Regions from separate parts of the Homo sapiens genome. Here region 2 is linked to region 1. The links come from fine-mapping of genetic effects on gene expression. Tissue or cell type: skeletal muscle. Region 1 holds a variant in brackets; the other region holds the start of a gene. All regions are shown on one strand. Distances are between the middles of the regions.

Region 1 (8,107 bases):
GATCACTATGAAGAACAAATGTAGAAGAAAGAGAACTGGAGAGATGAAAGAAAGATATGATGGCCACATGAAAGTTTGATATTTCAAAGATGAGATAGTGGAGTTCTAAGTAATAAGTTCCAGGATGTATCTTTGAACATGGGTTACTAAAAATAGAATGAAAGACACGAGTTCAAGGAATTTTAAGCCTAGATTTTGGACATTAAAGTCATGCTGATAGACAAGAGTTGGGATAGAGAACAAAATTGATCACAGCGCCAAAGTTCTCAATAAATGAGGACTCAGCCTTAAAGCATTGAGAAGGGGTAGAGGGTTGTATGCACATATGCCGTGATCTCAAGGAAGAAGGAACTTTAGCATGAAACAGGAACAACAGTGGTGAAGGGAAGCAGCCTTGGAGTATCTGCAGACTACCAACACTGCTTCAGGAGAGGATAGGAAGTCTCTGCTCCTGGGGCATGCTGGGGAAAGTTTTCTACAGGACATCCATGCTTCATTTCAAGGCAACACAGGAACAAGTGTTCTGTAAAAAGGTTGAGGATATAGGAGAATTTATTTATAATGGAAAAAAACTTTCTAGTGAGCATAATGGAAAGGATTGAAAGGAGATGATAAGTTAAATAGTCAAGAAATAGAAATACAGGCTGTGTGCAAATGTGAGCCAAAATAAGAAGGTGGGCTGCAGAGGCTTGCTTTTTGTTTAGGGGCTGAAGATCAGAGACATGGTCGGATTTACAGGGGGGCTGGGTCTAACGTATATGAGTACATTCTGTTGAGACCAGGAGACTCCTTGCCCTTTGGTCTCGTTTTTCAGGGCAACCCTGCCTTTTCATAGGAATTTTGAAGTTAACAATTACCTTTCCCCACTTGTAAGAATAGGCCCTTACTGTCTTATCTCCTCTGGGGTGTCTTACATATATTTATTGAGACCTATTTCTCTAGGTTATCCTTTGCCAGTTGTTTTCCACCTTTGTGTGAGATGGGGCCTTTGAACATAGTTTACACTTTTTGAAAAGTATAGCCTTATTATTAGATAATCCTGCCTTTGCCTCGCTTTGTGCCCTTGGCATGTTACTCTGCTTCAGTTTTCTTACCTGGAAATGATGCTCACTTCACTTGTTAGGATTAAGTGAGTTAACGCAAGTAAAACACTCCAAATGATGCCTAGTATGTACTCTGCACTATGTGGTTATTTTTGAAAACATGGTGATCATACTTTTACATATTATAACTATTTACTGAGTATCATCAACCAATATACTTGATACTTTAAATTTATTTAATTTCATTCTCACAACAATGCTATGATGTTGATTAACCTTGTCACTGAAATAAGCTAAGACTTCAGAGAAGAGCAGTAAATTGCCTTGCTAATAAATACTGAAGCTGTTATTAAAATATATCTTTTAATACCAAAATTCACTTTCTTTCCACTGTACAACTTGTTACAAACCACTGTCATTATCATTACCTGTATATTTTTGTTAGCTGTTAATAAATTTCCTCTGAAGTTACATAGCACCATAAAGTAATGAAAGATCTCCAAAAGTTCTTATTCTTTCCTGTTGTAACTGGACATCTTTGGTCTCCTTTCTGGTCTCTACTTGTTCTTGGATAGAGAACTCTGAACCTGCACCTGAGGCTGTCTTTTCAGATTCGTGGATATGAGTAAGAATGCCATCTACTGAGCACCTGCACTTTAATTTAAATCTTAAATTTAAAAAAATCAGAAAGAAAATAAAACCAATAATGAAAGTGGTAGTCTTTATTCTCTTAAGAGGCAAATAACAGCCTGAAACATAAATCCCACCTTTGAGACACATGTCTATCAAACCTATATTCTATACACAATTATTTGTGTATTGTGGATATTCCTTAAGGATTGAGTATGGAGAATTACGTTATACAATGACATTTCAGACTGAATCTTTTAAATTAATATTATCTCAAATGTTCTAAATGAAAATTAGCGGCAGGCTGCATGAGTAAAAAATTAGAAGATAGCACCTGTGGTGTTATTGAACACAAAGAGAATCATTGTACATCAAATATATATTTCTGAAAAGTATACTTTGATGAGCTTTTGAATTGGTTCATAAGGAAGTCTGAAAGATGGTCAAATTCAGGGCAGCAGCAGTAGAAATCATTTAATCTTTTTTTTCCCCTATATCAGAAATGCTGCAAGCGGGAACGTTTGCTTTTTTTTCCCCCTTGCCCTTTCCTGGGTCACTGCAGGTCACGTGATGACTGTCACGTGACTCGGTCAAAGGATCTTTTCCTCTTACAGCCTTGCAAAAAAAAAAAAAGCCGTTCTCCAATTAAAGCTGTTAACGTGTACTACGCTGTTTCCTTGTTGGATTTTCTTGTTCTCTGCTGCTACTGTAAAAACGAAATGAGTGGTAAGATTTGCTGTTTTCGAACATTCTGCTTTTATTTTAAGACAGAAAGCATTGTATTAATCTAAAGTCATGCCGTGTGTTTTTAAAAATAGATGCTAAATATCATCGCCATAAAATATTTTAAATTGTTGCCATGTAAATACAAAAAGGTTAGACTATGTAGAGTTATTTTGTAATTTTGTATTCCACGGAATATTCCATTCTAGGATCTTTATTTTACTAGGTTTTTCTTCTAGAGCTAAAATCTGAAAATTGGCATCAGATTATTTGGAAGCCATTGTGAACGCTGGCTTATAGAGAATGTGTAGCACAGCGGCAGCACGTTGCATTTTAAGAATTAAAACTCCTGGACAAATTTGTAATTTTATTTAAAAAAAACCTCTTAAATATGAATGTATATTAACAAGGAAAGATAAAGAAGAATTTAAGTTATACTAGTTGAAATATCTTCTTTAAGTCAGTGATGGCACTTTTTAAGAAGCAGGGGTGGGGAGCTTCTCAAATTTCTTAAGACAATTGGTTAGAATTGTTTACTCTTCTGCAGGTTTTTGAAATAGGAAATGTATCCTTAATAGCTCCATGATTGGGGTAAATCATGCTCAAATCACATAGATTATAAAGGAGCTGCTAAGTGTATGCACAGTTGTTGTCAGGTATTGCTACTCTTGTGCCAGGCATACATTTGTCAATAGGATCTGAGTTTCTTCCTTGGGACAAAATCTCCCTCATTGCATACAAATTTAAGTCAGTTTGTAGTTAATTTTCTGTTACTTTCTAAATTAAAAAGTATTGTTGGAACTAAGGAGCTAATCAAACATTTACATCATTAAATATGCAAGGCTTTAAGGTTTCGCTACTATAGACACAGGAGTAACAACAGACATGAGATGCTGTAAACGTTGTAGTTCTAAACATCGATACTTGTATTTATTATGTTTATACAATAGGGGTTTGCATTCAGTGTTGAATGTTACTTCACAGCAATATTTTAGGCATTAAATATGATACCGATAAATTGTCTTTTTAAAAGAAAATCTGGCCGGGCATGGTGGCTCACACCTGTAATCCTAGCACTTTGGGAGCCCGAGGCAGGTGGATCACCTGAGGTTAGGAGTTCAAGACCAGCCTGGCCAACATGGTGAAACCCCGTCTCTACTAAAAATACAAAAATTAGCCGGGCGTGGTGGCACATGCATGTAATCCCAGCTACTCGGGAGGCTGAAGCAGAAGAATCACTTGAACCCAGGAGGAAGAGGTTGCATTGAGCTGAGATAGCGCCACTGCACTCCAGCCTGGGCAACAGAGTAAAACTCCGTCT[C/CA]AAAAAAAAAAAAAAAAAATCTAACCATGTACAATTTCTGCCTCAGGATAAAAAAAAAATTTTTTTGCTAGAGTGAAAGGATTACTTCGTAAAGAAGTAAGTTAATCAGTCTTTTTCCTGGACTACATCTAGTAATATATTTACTACTGGTTTATTTTAGCTTACATTTCTCTTTTCAGCATCACACTTAGATATAATTAAAAAACAAAGTAGAATCTTGTATTACCAAATTATAAACTATTTTAGCGGCTATCAAAGTATAAAATGGTTTGAATTGTAACTACATATATATTCGTATTTCTGGTAAAAGGAGGGCCACTTGAAGCAATTGTGTGATTTTACTATTTTAAATGTAATTAGCAATAACTTATTATTCTGATGGCAAAAGAAAAACCTATTCTGATGACTTGATGTAAGGATTAAATTTGACAGCATATAAAAGGACCCACAGTAAAAGTGCAATGCTAATGGCCTTTATTAACATTATAAAATATGATTTTCAGTGAATTCTCTGTCAAGTTCTCAGCTGAATTTCACATATTGTAAGTAATACCTAAGCCACCTGTAAGGATTCAGGAAGTTAGTTTACTGTAGTTTTATATAAATTAGCTAATGGAAGTAAACCAGCATTAGTTTAAAACAGTTCTCATTTCTCTTGAGTCTAGAATATAGGAGCTAAAAGGTGAGTTTTGCATGAAGCTTTTCTGCCTAGAGGTATAAAGCAGCTCACAAGTTTTATTCAGTAAATTAATAGGTAATGTTTGCTTAAACTTAAGAAAATTTTATTCTTTCTCTCATGTTTTTACGGATGTAAAGACAACAAAGGCCTTAATTTTCCTTAGAGGCTTTAGAGCATTGTTCTTAAGCCTCAAATTATATCAGTTGCCAATACTGCATAGTATTTTAATGTTTACTAAAAATGTGGTAAGGATATGTCCTTAGAAATAAAACTACCTGGTTTTGAATCCCACTTCTACCACTTGGGGAGCTTAACCTCTCTGTGCCTCAGTTTCCACATCTAGAAAATGGAGATGATGATGATGATGATATTTACCTGATAGAATGATTATGAGGAGAAAAAATATGTAAAAGGCCTGGCACATAGTAAGTTAGTATTAGCTATATATAATTAAAATAATATTCTGGACAACTTCATGTATTTGGTGGTGGTCTTGTTTTGGATGGGAAGAGTATCTTATTGAAAAGTTCTTTTCACAGCCAGATATTATATAGTGTAATTTAGTGTTCTACACAAACACTTCTTACTTTCTCTCAACCACTTCAGTCTTATCCCTACTTTCTCTTCCCCTCCCCACCTCTTCTGTCCTTTCCCTCCCCTCCCCCTTTCTCCTATTTCTCCACATCGTTCCTCCTCCCCCTTACCCTTCTGTTTTCTCCTCTCCCTCCCTTCTTGTCTTCTCTTCACTCTCCTTTACTGCCTCTTGTCCCCTTTCTTATCCCTCCCTTTTCTTCTCTTACCTCTCGCCTCTCTCCTTCTCTCCCCTCTTGCCTTTCTCCTCTCCTTGCTTGCTTCCCCCTTTTTTCCTCCACTTTCCCCACTTTCCTTACCCCTGTTTAGTATTTTCCGTCACCCCGTTTAGTAGTTTCCCTCTTACACCCCCTTTCTTTTGTATTCTCTTTTCTCTTCCCTAGCTCTCTCATCTCCCTAGCCCTAATTTCATCACCACTGTGTGGTTCTGTCCTCACCCCTTGCCTTCCCTAGAAAGGGCAGAATGGCTGTAATCCGGATTTGTTGTGACCTCCATGTCCTTTATTCTGATTTTCTGAAGTATGTATAATATTAACAGAGTTACTTGTTTTCTACCCTACATTTGAGCTTTTCCTCCTTTATTTCTTTTATAGCTGAGAGCCATTATATAATGGTAGATTATAATTCTGCATATAAAAGAGATCCTTCCCCCTTTACATTCCTCATCAGACCTTTGTTCTTATTCCCTTAGAAATAAGTAATTTCTTTGAAAAGGTTTCATTTCAGGTTATAAAAAACTGGTGGGCATGAGGGGACACTGCAGTGTAAAGTTACAGGAAGAAAGGAACTGAAGGGGGGTAAGAGACTTTTTTAAAAGTTACATAAAGCAACTAAGATTTTAGTTCCTAGAAAGAACAAAACACACCTTCTCCAAATGCTTCTTTTGTTCCCAGAAATGTTAAAAGAGAAGGTAAACTAGAGATAATAGTTATAAAAGTTAATTGGAAAACCTAACACTATAAAAGTGAAAGGAAGTGTAGAGTGAGAGAAGCTGAATTTTCTTTTTTAGAACTTTTTAGTGTGAGAAACAAAAAAAAATTTTTTTTTCCTTTGGGTAAGTACACGTGTGGCATTTCTCTTTGTTCTTAAGCCCCCATAGACATGAGTCACACATTACACAAGTATTTTAACCCTAACAAAGCAAGTTCCAAATTTCTAACTATTCTTCCTCTTGCTGCTTTTCACTCTTGCTTTTTTATTTTGTCCCTGTAACTTTTGAAAATTTTGCCTTTTGTATTTTTCATTGATTTTATATGCAGAGTTTAGTTTGATTTTTCTCTAGGTCAGTGTTTCTAAACTTACACTATTATAAGAGTCACCTGGGATATTTGTAAAGTGAATATAATGATTCAAGACCCCATTGACTAAGAATCTCTAGGAGAGCCTGTTAATATGTTTTAAAAAGCCCTCCAACCTCCCCGCCCCCCACCACCCCTACCCCAGCAACTTTAAAAAACACAAATGTAGGTAAAGGGTAATTTGTGCACTTTACAAGATAAATTTTTATAACAAGTCAATCATCTGAATTTCTTTTTATAAAAATGTAGTTACTGTTGGCTTGAGTGTTTAGATGAAGTATTCAAAATGTAATTCAAATTGTTTTCAACTTTAGCCTGATAAGCAATCATGGGTTAATACATCATTTATGTGACCCATTCAGGTCCTGCTCAGGTTCCAATGATGTCCCCAAATGGTTCTGTGCCTCCTATCTATGTGCCTCCTGGATATGCCCCACAGGTATGTTTTTATGCTATTTTTCTTTTCATATTTGTATAATAGTGATAATGTTATTCTCTTTGACTTTGATTTTGATTTAAAAAAACCATTTAATTACTGAGGCTTACCAAGTGTTGTGTATCTATCATAAATCTATTTCAAGTATTTTAGTACATTTGGAAAGGAAGAAAAATTTTTATTGGCAGCACTCATCATTTGTCCTTGTCTTTGGGTGTTAAGTCACAAAAGAAAATTCATTCTAGAGTTTTGTCTCCCTAAATATATGACTAAATAAAAATAATATTTTAGGTTGTAAAGGTGCCTACACTGACATTTTTAAATTTAGAAATTTGCTTAGATGTAACCCAAGACAATGCTTCCAACTTTATTCATACAATGAATCTCAGACACTGTTGATAATTGCATGGCATATTGTGTTCAATAGAAAAGAGTTTAGCAACCCTGAGGGATGAGGGGGGGGGGGAAATAAAAAAAAAAAATCAGTATCTCCATACACCTGTAACCTTTTATGCATAATGACTGGGAAGCTCTGACCTTAAGTATAGTAATTTATGAACACAGGCAAACTGAATTAAACTGTAAAATCTGCAGGTGTTCAATATCTTCCACTACTGAGATTTCGTATGGTCTGCACGCTTTGCCTCAATCTATTTTGGGAAATAATCATTTTCTCTCCCTAGCATTGAATTTACACTTGAAGTTTTTCTTCAGGCCCTCTGTTACTTCCTCCCTGATTATGCCAGAATATTGGTGGTGGGATATTGGGGTGGATTTTCTGCACACTCTGTGAAGCACACCATCATATGAACCACAGCAAAAGAAGAGCGTGCTGGGAAGGAGAGAATGGAATGAGATTTAGAATGGATTCAGAAAAGCTGAATCCATATCTTATTTCAAACCTTTGCTGGCTGCATGGTCTTGGGCAAATCAACTTCCTTCAGTCTCAGTGCCTTCATTATGAGATGAGATCACGTACTGAAATTACCTTGTAAGCTTTTCAGAGTAGTCTCTACTAACTATCTCTACTTTTGTTTAGCACACTGACTCCTTAATATAGTCTGCATTCTGTCTATATTACTCTACTAAAACTGCTTTCCGCTATGTACCAAATCCAAAGTCCTGCTTTCCAGCCTGGTCCTCTTTGACCTCTAAAAATTTGGTACCACTGATAAGATTTACTACAGATTTCCTTGACATCATGCTGCCCTGATTTTTGTTTTCTACTTCTTTGTTGCACCTTCTCAGATCTTCCTTCTCTTACATGAAGACTGTTCTCTAGCATAGTTCAGTTCATGATTTATTGAGTGGCACCACGTACTGAGCTCTGTATTGGGAGCTAGTGATAAAAAGATGATTAAGACAAGTTCTTTCAGTGCACTTAGG
Region 2 (8,107 bases), 140 kb before region 1:
CGCCACCACGCCTGGCTAATTTTTGTATTTTTAGTAGAGACAGAGTTTCTCCATGTTGGTCAGGCTGGTCTCAAACTCCTGACCTCATGATCTGCCCACCTTGGCCTCCCAAAGTGCTGGGATTACAGGTATGAGCCACTGCGCTTGGCCCACCCCTGGTGGTTTTAAAGAGAGGTGGCTTTAGGAGTCCCAGAAATTCAGAAAAATGTAGAGAAGGTTCTTGTTAGGGTGAGGGGCCCACAGCAATATAGTGGCAGGGTGTGATCCGAAAAGAATGATGGCTACTGAGAAATTCCCTGTGGTGGGAATGGCCAACATTAAATGTGAAGTCGCTTCCTATTCTGTGTCTTGTTTCCTTTGCTTTTAGGGAAGGAGCTGTTCCATCCATAGGAAAGCACAGAGTGGGATGGAAACGGGAACAGGATCAGAGCAAGTGTGCACCCTGGCCAAGTTCCTTTCCAAGAATCCTTGGAAATGTGGAGGAAGGTTCTGGATTTTCCCAACCTCACCAAATCACAATTAGCCAGGACATCCTAATCATGTAGCTCACATTTATTTATTGAGCATCAAGCATATACCAGGCATCTTCATACATTATGAAATTTAATCCTGCAAAGTAGGTATTTTATCCTTAGTTTATAGTTGAGGAACTGAAGCCAGAAAGGTTGGATAACAAGCCTAAGATCGATCAATCAATCAGTTAGTAATAGAGCTGCGACTGAAGCCCAGATCTACCTGACTCCAAAGCCTGTCTTTCCTGCTCCACATTATACTACACCCCTTCTCAGAGATTAAAAAAAAAAAAGCTCTGGCTGCTTTAACTGGTGTACCTCCAGGTCAACCACTTCCATCTCCTTCTCCTCTTTCAGATTTGCACCTGTTCCCTAACCAAAGAGAGGAACAACAGCAATAGTGTTCTGTCGGGATCTGTTCAGAGTTAAGGCCACCAATATTGTTCAGAGAATTCAGTCAGCACACCCCTCCCACCTCAATCTGCTGTCCCATCTCTCCTCTTCATCACCAAACTTTTTTTTCCAAACTTTCTAAATAGTCTCCACTTGCTGTTTGACTTCTTCATCTTCGTCTTTCTCTTTAACCCACTGTACTTTGTCAAGAACTATGAAAGGTCTGAGATTTCATCCTCCTTGCAAGCTAATCACTTAACCTGCTATAGTTTCATGGAAGCTGGCAGAAGACGTGGGGCTTTGCAGTCAAAGGGCTGTATTACTCATGGCACAGCAAGCAGCGCCAGTGTCATGTTCAGTCAGTTCCCTTGCCCCCAGGTCTTACCTGGAGCTACATGGTGTGGTTCAGGTGAGTGATGCACCTGCAGTGGGTTTGCCTCACAGCTGAGAAACTCTATCTAAGCTTAGGAAATCCCCAATCTTTTTATAATAGGCTGCAAGAAAACCTGCTTGACCTTTACCTCCAAAGACATTATCTTCACTATATTGGATGGTAAACAAATGTGCCCCTGCTCTTGGCGGGGAGGGGGAGCAGGGCAGGGGACACTATGTATATTTTCCAAGGCAGTTTGACCAAAAAAAAAAAAAAATCCTTGAAAATATAGTCTAAAACAAAAGCTGTTAGTGCCTCTGCTCACAAGACATGCAGAAATACTAGAGTCCCACAGAGAATTGTCTTCCAGCACATTTCTGCATTTCTTCCCACTAGTCATACAGAAGATTGCTCTCTTGAAAATGATCAGTGATCTAATTTCCCGATCTAACAACCTTCTAGAATCCCAGAAATAAACTCATAGGACAATAATCATTCAAGAAATATTTATTGGGTAGCTTCTATGTGCCAGGCACTGTGCAGGCCCAAATAGACATGGTCTTTATCCTAATGTGGGGAGCAACAGACATTAACCTAGTAGTTACACATACCAAAATGTAGTTACAAGCTGTGGTAAGTCATAAGAGGGGAGGGTATATGGTGGTAAGAGAGCTGACATAACAAGGTATCTTGAATGTATCTGGGAGGTCAGAAATGTTTTTCCCAAGGATGTCGCTTTCAAGCTGAGACCTGAAGGATGAGTAAGAGATAGGATAACTAAAGGAGAGAATGGCATGTACATAGAGCCTTTGGTTGTTGGGATCATAGCATTTTTGAGAAACTAAAAGAAGACCAGGAAGTCTGCCCAGGAAACAAGGTGAAAATGGTGTGAGATGAGGCTGGAAAAGGCAGGTAAGGCCAGACCTCGTATGGTCTTTTAGGCTGCCTTAAGAATTCTAGACTTATCCTAAAGCAATGAGAAACTGTTTAAGGAGATTTTTGGAGTAGTGACATAGTCTCATTTGCTTTCTTAGAGGATAATTTTGGCTGCAAAATGGAGACTGAATGGAGGATCCCAGATTGTATACAGTGAGATCGAATTAGATTGGTGGTGATTGGAAAGAAGTAGACCAATTAGATTTTAGAAATAAAATTGCCAGGAGTTAGTGCTGCAACAAATATGGAGAATGGAAGAATGGAGGTGAGGGAGACATCAGCGGTTACTGACTACTAGATATTTGATTTGAATAACTAGAGAGATGGGGGATAAGGAAAACAAGTGTTCATGAACTCAGTTGGACTAAACTTTGCAACTTTGAGATATTAAGTGGCCATGTCAGTGAAGCTTGGAATTTAGAGGTAGGGTCAAACTTTGACTAGTGGATCAGATTTGGAATTTAGAGGAAAGGTCTGGGCTGGAGGCATATATGTGGAGATCACTGGCATATAGATGATAACTAAAGCCATTGGCGTGGGTGATGCTGCTTAGGCCAAGAGATTACAATGAAAACAGAAAAGAATCTAAAACTGAATTTTAAGGTACTGTTATATTTAATAGTTAGGGAGACCAGCAGGAATATGCAAAGGAATCAGAGAAGCAGTGCCTAGGAAACTAAGGAGGAAAACCAAGAAAATGCAGTGTCAAAGGAAGAAGAAATGTTTAAGAAAGAATAGTGGTCAAAGTGTTGAGTATTGTTGAGAGGCCAAGAAAGATGAGGATTGAAAATGGCTCCCATTTTATTGATAAAAAAAAAGTGAAGCATTGAGAAGAGAACTTGTTCAAAGCCAACATAATTTCTTGACCCTCTCTCTGTTCCCAGAGAACTCATACTGGTGCACATGCTAGGGTCATTTATGTGTGGGTTTTCTTCTCTCCAAAGGCCATAAATTCCTTGGTCTTCACTTTACTTCACCTTACTGCATTGCATATTATTGACTACAATCTCTAGGTCTTCAATAACATTCTTAAATTATGTGTTAATCTCCTTCAAAAACAGCTGATCTTCTTTACTCTGCCTTTACATGTAGGCATGTCCCAAACATATTTTTTTAAATATAGTTTTTAAAAGTGCCATGTCTTGGCCTCTCCCTGGACAAAGGAATCAGAATCTTGAGGGGGTAGATTGCAGGATTCTGTATTTTCAAAAAGCTCCTGAGTAGGAAGCAGAGTAGGAAAGTATTAGCTTAGCGGTAAGTTTGGAAACCACTATCTTAGTCTCAGACCAAGCATAGTTGGGCAGTAAGATGGGGAAGCCACCCCATTCGCCCACACTCTGATAAAATCCTCATACTTTGAAACAATATACAGTTATACTTCAATTATTCCAAGATCAACTTGCCAGCTGTCTCGAAGAGGGCCAAATCCAAAAGTTAAGAAAAGGAAACATCTCTCACAGGGAAAGAACTTCTGATAGTGAAGAGCAATGAAAATATCTCAAGATACCACTGCCCTATTTACAACCAGAAGAAAAGAAACCTCTCATTAGCTGGCTGTGGACATAAACATCCCATCAATCTTCACCTGGAGCCGCAGAGAAAACCAGCCGAGAAAGGAGAGAAGAATGAAAAATAAACAGTAAAGCAGAAAGAATAAGAGGAAGGATCAGAGTGGATAGAGGCAGATGAGGAGATGAAAAGCAGTGAAGGATTTTAGAAGAGGTGATGAGAACATTCCAAAGAGGGAAAAAAAGAGAGCACCAAAGTAGGGATTCTATACACCGCAGCAATCCTCTGGGACTTAAACGTATGGCCAAGATATCGGTTTGAGAGTCAGTTATCAACAAAGGATTTAATTAGCCATTGTATTCTTTAAGAATATAGAGAATAATCACATTTTAAAGAGATTTCTGTAAAACAGTTTTAAAAATACAGCTATTTTAAAAGATCGCACAATTAATACACTGAAATAAAGCCCAGACATGCAACTTGTTACATCCATCACCATTTTTGAAAGGACAGTTCCTGAGGCTGGACTCACCGGCCCAAGTACTACCCCCTCCCCAGGTCTCCGGCGGCAACTGTAAGTCAAAAGCCCTCAGGCATTATTGCAGCGTCCCACATTGTTTGAGGTTCCAGGAAGTCGCTGCTACGCTCACTTGTAAGTCTTCGTGCTGTTGTAAAAATTGAGGTCGTGGTTTTCCACGCGATTTGGCTGGCGAAGAGACCACGAAGCCACCCCCCACGTTTTCAACTGAGTAAATATCTAAATATTTTTGCTTGCTATCCAGATCCTGGGTTCGAAGTCTTTGGGATTAGAAACTTCCAAGCCCATTTCAGAGGCTTCCTAGTCCTTGGGAGGAGTGTCTTTTAAAGCACCTGCCAGCCTTAAGTTCGCGTGCTTTCGGAAAGGGGCCGACAGGGTGCGTCTCAGGGGAGCCTTTTGAAATGTGGATTGAGAATTGTGTGAGTGTCTCTAGGAACCTCCATTAACTCCACTTTTCCTGAGTGTAGCTCCGAGCCTGGCCACAGCGGATGCTACCACAAGCCAGGCGCAGCCGGGCCTCGGGAGAAAGCCGGAAGCCCGAGAGGGTGTGGGCGCTCCGGGAGCCAAACGCGGCCGCTCAGCCGCCACGCGCCGGTGGCCCCGCGGGGACTCGCGTTCCGGTGAGAGAGCCCCGGCGCGGCGGGCTCGAGGCGGGGGTTCGGGGTCCCGGCCGCGGGCTCCGTCGGCGGGGCCCGCGCAGCCGCACTCGGCGCGCCGACTTCGGGCTCCTCCTCCCGGCTCCGTAGTAAGCATGGCGGCGGCGGCGTTCGTGGTCCCTCGGGTGAAACAGAAAGCGGGAGCTACGCGGAGAGGGAGCGAAGAGCGGGGCTGAGGCGGCGGCGTCACTGCCAGGAAACAACCCCAACAGTCAGCGCGCCGGCGGCCGCGGCGGCCCTGAGAGCTGACTCTGCAGCTGAGGTAGAGAGACAACGATCAGGAACCCTAAGAAGAGGCGCCAGAGGAGCCGCCTTCTGCCTCAGAACGGCGTGACTCGGAGGTGAGAGCGCGGGCACTCCCTCCGCGAAAGGCGGGGGACACCGAGCCGTCCCAACCCCGTCCCGCCCCGGAGGAGGCGCCGCGGAAACCGTTAGGCTGGGACTGAGGGCCGGGGCACTCTCCAGGGCTCGGCCCCGTCGAGGGGCGCGGACCACCCCCTTCTGTGGGCGCGCTGTGGGCAGAGGTGCAGAGGGGCAGTGGGGCCGGGGACAGGACCGGTCTACTAGTCGGGCACCTGCCGGGGCCGAGCCTAGCCAGGACACGCTTGCGGGGGCGCGGCCGGGGGCGCCATCCAGCCCAAGAGGAGGCGGCATCTAGCCCGAGGGAGGTGGCGCTGGTGCGCGGGCGGCCCTTCTCTCTGTCCCCCGCCTCCTCCCCGCGGCGAGCCGCGTAGCTCCGGAGGGCTCGGGGGCGGGGGCGGGGGCGGGGGCTGGGGCGGAATCCTCCTGAGAGGATCGCCCAGCACCCGCGGCGCCTTCGGCTTTGGCCGCCCGGCAGCCGCCGAACTTGAACGCTTTTCTGAAGAGAGTTTTCCCCGCTCATCTTGGGGTTAAAACCTCGAAAACCCGCCCTCTGTTTGATCCTGCGTGGCTGCTTCCAGTACCTGGCAGTTCCTCTCCCCGGGCGAGTTAACCACCTGTTCAGTCGGGAGGTGGACTCGAGGCTGCAGTCCTCGCCCGGTTTTAACAACCTGGATCTTCGAACTTTTGACACGGCTTTGGAAACGACGTCATGTGTTAGGTAAAGGAAAATGAACAGATAATTTCGCTGTCAGATTGCGAGCAGAAGAGGGACTGTTTTAATGGATGTGGTCGTTAATTGTTCTTTTATTCAACTGTTAGCGTTACAAGCCTTGGGATATTTTAGAGGGTGGAATGCGATGATTTGCTGGGGGTGCTAGAGATTGTGAATTCGAGATTTTCTTTTGTGAGATTTTACGTAAGTTCCTTTGGACACCTTTGTGTCTGACCATCTATTAAATAAGAGTCGCAGGCTGATGAGATTTTTTTTTTCTTTTTGCGGTATAATCATTATGTGTTCACTATGGGTTTTTAAAACCGAACAACGTAATTATTTTGCTTCTTACTGTGGTCTGTGTTTTTTAGTTCTTGAAACCAAAGTGTGTATGCTTCTGTATTGTAGGAATGAAATAACAGTTGAACTCTTACTATAATATTTTATCACCATGCTGTTACCAGCTCCAGTACTAAACATACGCCACTCAGGAGTTTGAGCCATATGTTAGGCAGAAACGAATTGAGTTTTGTGGTTCTGATCTTATGTTTGGATAAATATTTAGTTTTTGCGTATTTACTAACTCTTGTCATCTTGTGTCACCCACAAATGTTCAAGTGAGTTGAATCCCCTGTCTTTTGGATATTTTCTTGGTTGAATTAATTTTTCTTAAGTAATGAGATGAAGTACTCACTGAGACAGATGGTGGCCCAACAGAAAACAGTGATGAAGGATTTTTACCACATCTTTTATGAAATATAACCTGAAATGTTGCTTTTAGCTTTGTAGCCTACTAATCTTGCTTTCTAATCACACCAGTTAGTGGGAAGAAGGGATGATGACAGGAGAAACATCTTGTTAAAATTTTAATATTAAATCTTATATTTAAATTTTTTAGCACTACTACATTAAATTTTACTATATTGTCTTGTTTCATTTCATAGATCATCTGTTAGTTTTCTATGTGTAGGTTAACTGGAAAATTTTTTATCCCAGGCTGGCTACCGTTAGCCACCTGTATGCTTCTGAATTAACTCCCTCTTTTTCCCTTTTGTCTGAATCCTCCAAATCATTGAATGCTCCGGAAAAATAAAATCCTGGTTAACACTGTCAAGCATAGTTATAAGGGTAATTAATTTATCCCAAATTAATAATAAGCATTAAAAAAAACATTCTAGGATTATCTTCTTTTGGTGACGTCTGTGTCTTCACTTCCTCTATCTGTGTGAGTAATTGAGACCTGATTTATTTTAACACACATGTAATGATTACTCTTTACTAGTCACATTTCTACAATATAATAGTAAGCATATTTTATTACTAATTTAAAAATTTCTCCCTCTTCCCTGACCAGCCAGACATAGCTAAGGGCTGAGACATCCTTAACCCCCCGAAAAAAAGAGGGAATGCATGATTCATATTCTCATTGTCTTTTGTAGTTTTAGGCAAAGAGCATTTAATTTATACTTTATCAATTTTTAGTAATATTTGCGCTGTTTTAAAACATTTGCATTTTTTAAGATGTTCATGACATCCAAGGCTTGTGTATTTTATAATCTGCCAGTATTTTTAAAATACAATTTGATGAAGTAACCAAAAACGTTTTTTTTTTGAAACATTGTTGGTGCATTTTTGAATGAAAATGAATCTAGATCGTGTCTTTGAGAATGGTGTAGGGATATGCACATGATTTCCAATTTTATTAGCCAGATAACTAAGTGATTAGTGTTTCTGGTTTTTTTTTGTTTGCTTTTGTTTTTTTTGTTTTGTTTTTAGCATTGCCTAGCGGACTTCAAATAAACTCACAATATTGTAATTCCGAAGGTTTAGAATATGGTGCATATTTATTCCATTGAGCCTTTTACTGCTTCAGTTTATCACATTGCAAAACAAGAAATATGGCTCCCATATGTGTGAATGTCAAAAACTACTTGTTAAAACGAAATTAGTGGCCATTAATGTTGAAAGGCAAATTTTGTACTTTTACATGTATTGTGAGCTTTTATAATTTTCTTAATATTTTGGTCTTATTTCAGATAATTATTCAGTGGTCTCTTTTTATATCTTTATTCTTACCTTTCTGTCTTCCCACTGTTGTGGTTTTGCTTGTCTTTA

Which allele goes with the higher level. Alleles are on the strand shown, and positions count from the first base shown. SD is a standard deviation of normalised expression in the study named.
In carriers of allele CA in region 1, the expression in skeletal muscle of the gene that starts at base 4,993 in region 2 tends to be higher than with C alone (large effect, 1.2 SD a copy in FUSION).

What was found. PIP is the estimated chance that this variant, and not a neighbour inherited with it, causes the effect.
Region 2: FNDC3A starts here. The variant in region 1 is fine-mapped to the expression of FNDC3A in skeletal muscle (FUSION, PIP 0.95).

Annotation. Positions count from the first base shown.
Region 1 is chr13:49,108,008-49,116,114 of GRCh38, forward strand. FNDC3A (fibronectin type III domain containing 3A) reads left to right here. Exons shown (of 26, transcript NM_001079673.2): 4 at 6,648-6,724. Among named protein-coding and RNA genes, the nearest start is that of MLNR, 110 kb to the right of the region's middle. RefSeq lists enhancers at 4,811-5,315, 5,316-5,819. The variant C/CA (reference allele first, on the strand shown) is at 3,718.
Region 2 is chr13:48,970,920-48,979,026 of GRCh38, forward strand. It overlaps FNDC3A (fibronectin type III domain containing 3A), which reads left to right and starts at 4,993. Exons shown (of 26, transcript NM_001079673.2): 1 at 4,993-5,258. RefSeq lists enhancers at 4,198-4,257, 4,528-5,147, 4,958-5,257, 5,148-5,767, 5,928-6,027 and silencers at 4,708-4,977, 5,308-5,787.